Linked DNA regions of Homo sapiens. Changing the gene in region 2 together with the main gene of any one other region gives a genetic interaction. Each region holds a gene or a part of one and is shown on either strand. Other genes may lie near its edges.

Region 1 (3,500 bases), on a different chromosome or scaffold from region 2:
TTAAAACTTATGTATAAAAATATATTCTGAATCAACAGAGAGACCCCTCTCTCCTCCTCTTCCCAAACAGGACCTAGTGAATATTCATTTACATCCTGAACTCAAAAGCATATACATGCATAATTAACAATTGTATGTTCTTTCTTCAGATCCAGGCTTATTGTCTCAAAAAAAATATTTGTTAAGAAACCAATCTATACTGCAAACCTAGGTTCTTATTAAAAAAAAAAAAGTTCCTTTTTCAAACACTAAGAACATAAAAGAGATTTGGGAAAATCACCAGGTAAGGACTTCCTCACACCTTAGAGAATTTAATGCTTTATTTTCAAGAGAGAGTCTTCTCTAAAGTTCAGATTTTAGCTTATAACAAAAATTATAAAGATGCTGAACTGTTCAAATACTGTAGTTCCCAGTACCTTACTAAAACTCTGATGTAGTCACTGGAGTGAAACTGCTTATGAAACTTTTGGCTTTTCTTTTCTGAAAGATAGTTTCCTTTATGCAAATGAATGTTCTAGAGAAGCCGCTCATTTCTGCAAGTCAGCCCGCAATAGCTACAGACATTACTGTTTTGCATATAGGACTAGCCCTGCACCTCTAAAACTGACACCATCTTAATAACGCAGAGCAAGATGAGTATTTTAATTTAGATTTTAAGCAATTACATTAATACTATTTGGCTCTGCCTTTTTCTTCTCTTTCCTTTTCTTTTTAAAGGTGGCTACAGCAGAGTGATGAAAATACTTCAGGTATTTTTGCTGCAAATCAGATGCCAGATCAACAGATTAGACTGAATATTTGTACTACCAGATAACAGCAGGAAAGGAAAATAAAGGGTCAAGAGGTTTCAGATTGGGGCAAAGAGGACATGCCCCTATTTGTTATCAAAGTATGTCCTAAAATCTTGGTACCAAAGAGTAAAACCACATATAGAAGTAGCAGAACATTTCATCAACCTCAAAGACATGCTATGACTTAAAACCGATTTTTTCCACTTTTTTATATTTAAATTATCCTTTTTCTCCTCAGACCTGTCCAATTCTCTCCCTAGGACTCCCTAGCTCCCTAAATACCCCAAACTTTAGCTTTTGGTTAGGAATGTGATTTGTTTTCGAGAGTCAAGAGGAGATTCGTATATTTTGCTAGATGTCAGAGTTGCCTGCTTTAATTTGAACTTTGTGCAATCTTGGATCTCCCATTTTCTAATAAGGTCTCATTGATTAAATTAGATATAGGGCTTTTCTTTTCCATCTCCAGAATGAAAAAGAATCAATTTTAATATGTAGAAAATAAGCATTTCTCTCTGGTTGTCAGATTTGATTCCTACTTAGCTCAAACAATGTTAGGTATAAAAAGTTGCTAACAGGCCAAAAAATTCTTTCCTCCCTTCCCTAAATTACACTGGATATGCTTACACCAAAGCCTCAGAAATATCGTGAGCGTGGTAGGGAGAAAAAAAACCTGAAAACAAAAGGGCACTTAATGCCAAGAGGAGTCCAGATCTTGGCTTTCCCTTTTCCAATCACTAGACAGGTAACTTTGGATGTCAGTTACCTTCTCTGGACTTCAGACTGTTCACCTTGATATGAACCAACCAGATTAGAAAATCTTTAAAGCAACTTTTAATACTAAGTATCTCTATTCTCTGTAAAGGAAATTACAAATCTTAATGTTTATGAAAGCACTTGGCAGTCCCATGGACATATTTCACCCGAAAGACCATGAGATTTGGATAGTTAAGTGTACACATTAACTCACCATGACATATAAGCATTTTGGGATAGGAAGGTGGGAATAAGAAGATACAAGATCCATAGTTTCATCGATTCTTAAACAGCCCTGACCTTGTAAAACATTTACAAAAATAGATGTTGAATGTTTTTTTAAAAATCCCCAATGAATTTGCAATTACTATTCTTACAGTGTTTAACAGCTCAGGGAAGATAGACTAATTTTGGTAAGACAGACAAACTGAATTACTACAACTTTCCTCCTAACTTAATATCAGTTTGTGATTATGTAAGAAAATGCAAGAGGAAAGTGACAAGAATTATGCAGAAAAGCAGAGATAAAACTAATTTGGCTTTGAAATGCATTATTTTCATGCCAGATTTATTCTTCAAATTATGTGCTGCTTAGATGAGCATTATTTTTCCTTTCTTAAACACTTACAAAAGAACGACAGAAGATAGCCCAGAAAGGCACAATAGAAGGTAAATTTATTTAAAGACCTACAAAATACACAAGCCAAGTCATGTCTATACTGGCATAGTAAAGCACAGCAGAACAATGATGATTTGGGTCTTCTGAACGAAAGACCAAAAAACATAGTTAAGATGGAGTTTCTAGAGTTGGACTGCCTCGATCATATCCCAGGTAAGATTAGAAATCATAATCATTCACTGTACCTCCTGAAGCAAGATACTGAATCATTCTGTCCTCAGTTTCTTTACCTGTAAAATGTGACAACAATAGTACTTATGGAAGTTTTGAGGCTTAAATGAGATATGGGTATTATAAACAATGCCTGGCATACATACAGTAAAAATTCAGAAAAAAGGGTTAGCTACAATTATTTCTTCTCTCTAAGGCTCTAAACCAAATTAGAATCGATGACACTAATAATAAATAAGATCTACAGAAAAGTCAAACTCCTTTTATCCAGCAGCTTCAACTGTCCCTTCCAAATTGTGTTTTATTTTAAAAAGAACAGCTAGTTAGTGATAAAATTAGTTTATATATGTCTTTCCATCTTTGACTCCACAAATCATTAGTAGAGTTAACAAGTGAGAAGAGGTAAAGGTCCTGGGGCAGCAATGGCTAGCAGAACCTCCTGTGATGATGGAACTATTCTATATACACGCTGTCCAGTATGGCAGCCACTAACCACAAGCAGCTACTAAGCACTTGAAATGCGGCTACTGCTGAGAAAACGAATTTTTATTTAATTTTAATTTAAACTTAAATAGCTATAAGTAGCCGAGTGCAGTGGCTCACACCTGTAACCCCAACACTTTGGGAGGCCGAGGCGGGAGAACAGCTTGAGCCCAGGAGTTCAAGACCAGCCTGGGCAACATGACGAAACCCTGTCTCTACAAGAAATACAAAAACAAATTAGTCAGGCAGACATGGTGGCAGTGCCTGTAGTCCCAGCAACTTGGGAGGCTGAAGTGGGAGGACTGCCTGGGCCTGGGAGGTCGAGGCTGCAGTGAGCCATGATCGTGCCACTGCACTCCAGCCTGGGTAACACAGAGAGACCCTGTCTCAAAAAAATAGAATAATAAAATTTCAAAAAAAGCTACGTGTGACTATGGCTAGGATAGCAGAGCCCTAGATAATCCATAAGCTAAATAAGGATTGTCAGAAACTTAAGCAAAATAAGGATCTTCTTTTCCTGAACTGTTTATATGTTCAATTCAAATATCTTTGTTTCTGGTATAGGCCTGGTAAGTTTGACTAGTTAAAGAAATAACATGTCAGTAGATATCAATACAGTGAAA
Region 2 (2,194 bases):
TAGTGATAAGAGCTGTAGGGATTTTGTTCTTTTGCTTAGAATCCAAGGTTCAAGGACCTTGGTTATGTAGCTCCCTGTCATGAACATCATCTGAGCCTTTCCTGCCTACTGATCATCCACCCTGCCTTGAATGCTTCTAGTGACAGAGAGCTCACTACCAGGACTACTCCCTCCTTTCATTTAGTAATCTGCCTCCTTCTTTTCTTGTCCCTGTCCTGTGTGTTAAGTCCTGGAGAAAAATCTCATCTATCCCTTTCATTTGATTCTGCTCTTTGAGGGCAGGGGTTTTTGTTTCTTTGTTTGTTTTTTTAAGTGTTGGTTTTCCAAAGCCCTTGCTCCCCTCCTCAATTGTAAACTTCAAAGCCCTACTTGGGATTGAAGGTCCTTAGGCTGGAAACAGAAGAGTCCTCCCCAACCTGTTCCCTGGCCTGGATGTGCTGTGCTGTGCCAGTATCCCCTGGAAGGTGCCAGGCATGTCTCCCCGGCTGCCAGGGGACACATCTCTATCCTTCTCCAACCCCTGCCTTCATGGCCCATGGAACAGGAGTGCCATCGCCCTGTGTGCACCTACTTCCATCAGTATTTCACCAGAGATCTGCAGGATCAAAGTGAATTCTCCAGGGATTGTGAAATGATGCGATTGTGGTCATGTTTAAAAGGGGGCAACTGTCTTCTAGAGAGTCCTGATGAAATGCTTCCAGAGGAAATGAGCTGATGGCTGGAATTTGCTTTAAAATCATTCAAGGTGGAGCAGGTGGGGAAGGGTATGGATGTGTAAGAGTTTGAAATTGTCCATCATAAAATGTGTAAAAAGCATGCTGGCCTATGTCAGCAGTCACAGCCTGGAGGCTGTGAACAGAGTGCCAGTCACTGATGCTCTTGCCTGGCACCTACAGTTGCTGGAAACCCAGAAGTTTCACGTTGAAAACAACAGGACAGTGGAATCTCTGGCCTGTCTTGAACACGTGGCAGATCTGCTAACACTGATCTTGGTTGGCTGCCGTCAGCTTAGGTTGAGTGGCGGCCTCTTCCCTTAGTTTGCCTTAGTCCCCACTATTCCCTATTGTCTTACCTCGGTCTATTTTGCTTATCAGTGGCACTCACGTGGCACTCATAGGCATTTGAGTCTATGTGTCCCTGTCCCACATCCTCTGTAAGGTGCAGAGAAGTCCATGAGCAAGATGGAGCACTTCTAGTGGGTCCAAGTCAGGGACACTATTCAGCAATCTACAGTGCACAGGGCAGTTCCCCAACAGAGAATTACCTGGTCCTGAATGTCGGATCTGGCCCCTTCCTTCCCCACTGTATAATGTGAAAACCTCTATGCTTTGGTTCCCTTGTCTGCAAAACAGGGATAATCCCAGAACTGAGTTGTCCATGTAAAGTGCTTAGAACAGGGAGTGCTTGGCTTGGGGAGTGTCACCTGCAGTCATTCATTATGCCCAGACAGGATGTTTCTTTATAGAAACGTGGAGGCCAGTTAGAACGACTCACCGCTTCTCACCACTGCCCATGTTTTGGTGTGTGTTTCAGGTCCACTTCATCAACCCGGAAACGGTGCCCAAGCCCTGCTGTGCGCCCACGCAGCTCAATGCCATCTCCGTCCTCTACTTCGATGACAGCTCCAACGTCATCCTGAAGAAATACAGAAACATGGTGGTCCGGGCCTGTGGCTGCCACTAGCTCCTCCGAGAATTCAGACCCTTTGGGGCCAAGTTTTTCTGGATCCTCCATTGCTCGCCTTGGCCAGGAACCAGCAGACCAACTGCCTTTTGTGAGACCTTCCCCTCCCTATCCCCAACTTTAAAGGTGTGAGAGTATTAGGAAACATGAGCAGCATATGGCTTTTGATCAGTTTTTCAGTGGCAGCATCCAATGAACAAGATCCTACAAGCTGTGCAGGCAAAACCTAGCAGGAAAAAAAAACAACGCATAAAGAAAAATGGCCGGGCCAGGTCATTGGCTGGGAAGTCTCAGCCATGCACGGACTCGTTTCCAGAGGTAATTATGAGCGCCTACCAGCCAGGCCACCCAGCCGTGGGAGGAAGGGGGCGTGGCAAGGGGTGGGCACATTGGTGTCTGTGCGAAAGGAAAATTGACCCGGAAGTTCCTGTAATAAATGTCACAATAAAACGAATGAATGAAAATGGTTAGGACGTTACAGATATATTTTCCTAAACAATTTATCCCCATT

The links. A genetic interaction does not mean that the proteins touch.
Region 1: of BMP7 (region 2) and SMAD1, changing one suppresses a phenotype caused by changing the other (phenotypic suppression), as found in Homo sapiens cells (one study listed by BioGRID).

What each region holds. Positions count from the first base shown.
Region 1 is NC_000004.12:145,484,853-145,488,352, reverse strand, and holds part of SMAD1 (mothers against decapentaplegic homolog 1), read right to left. Parts: intron 1-3,500. UniProt on the Homo sapiens protein: Transcriptional modulator that plays a role in various cellular processes, including embryonic development, cell differentiation, and tissue homeostasis.
Region 2 is NC_000020.11:57,170,448-57,172,641, reverse strand, and holds part of BMP7 (bone morphogenetic protein 7 preproprotein), read left to right. Parts: intron 1-1,533; coding exon 1,534-1,683; 3' UTR 1,684-2,194. UniProt on the Homo sapiens protein: Growth factor of the TGF-beta superfamily that plays important role in various biological processes, including embryogenesis, hematopoiesis, neurogenesis and skeletal morphogenesis.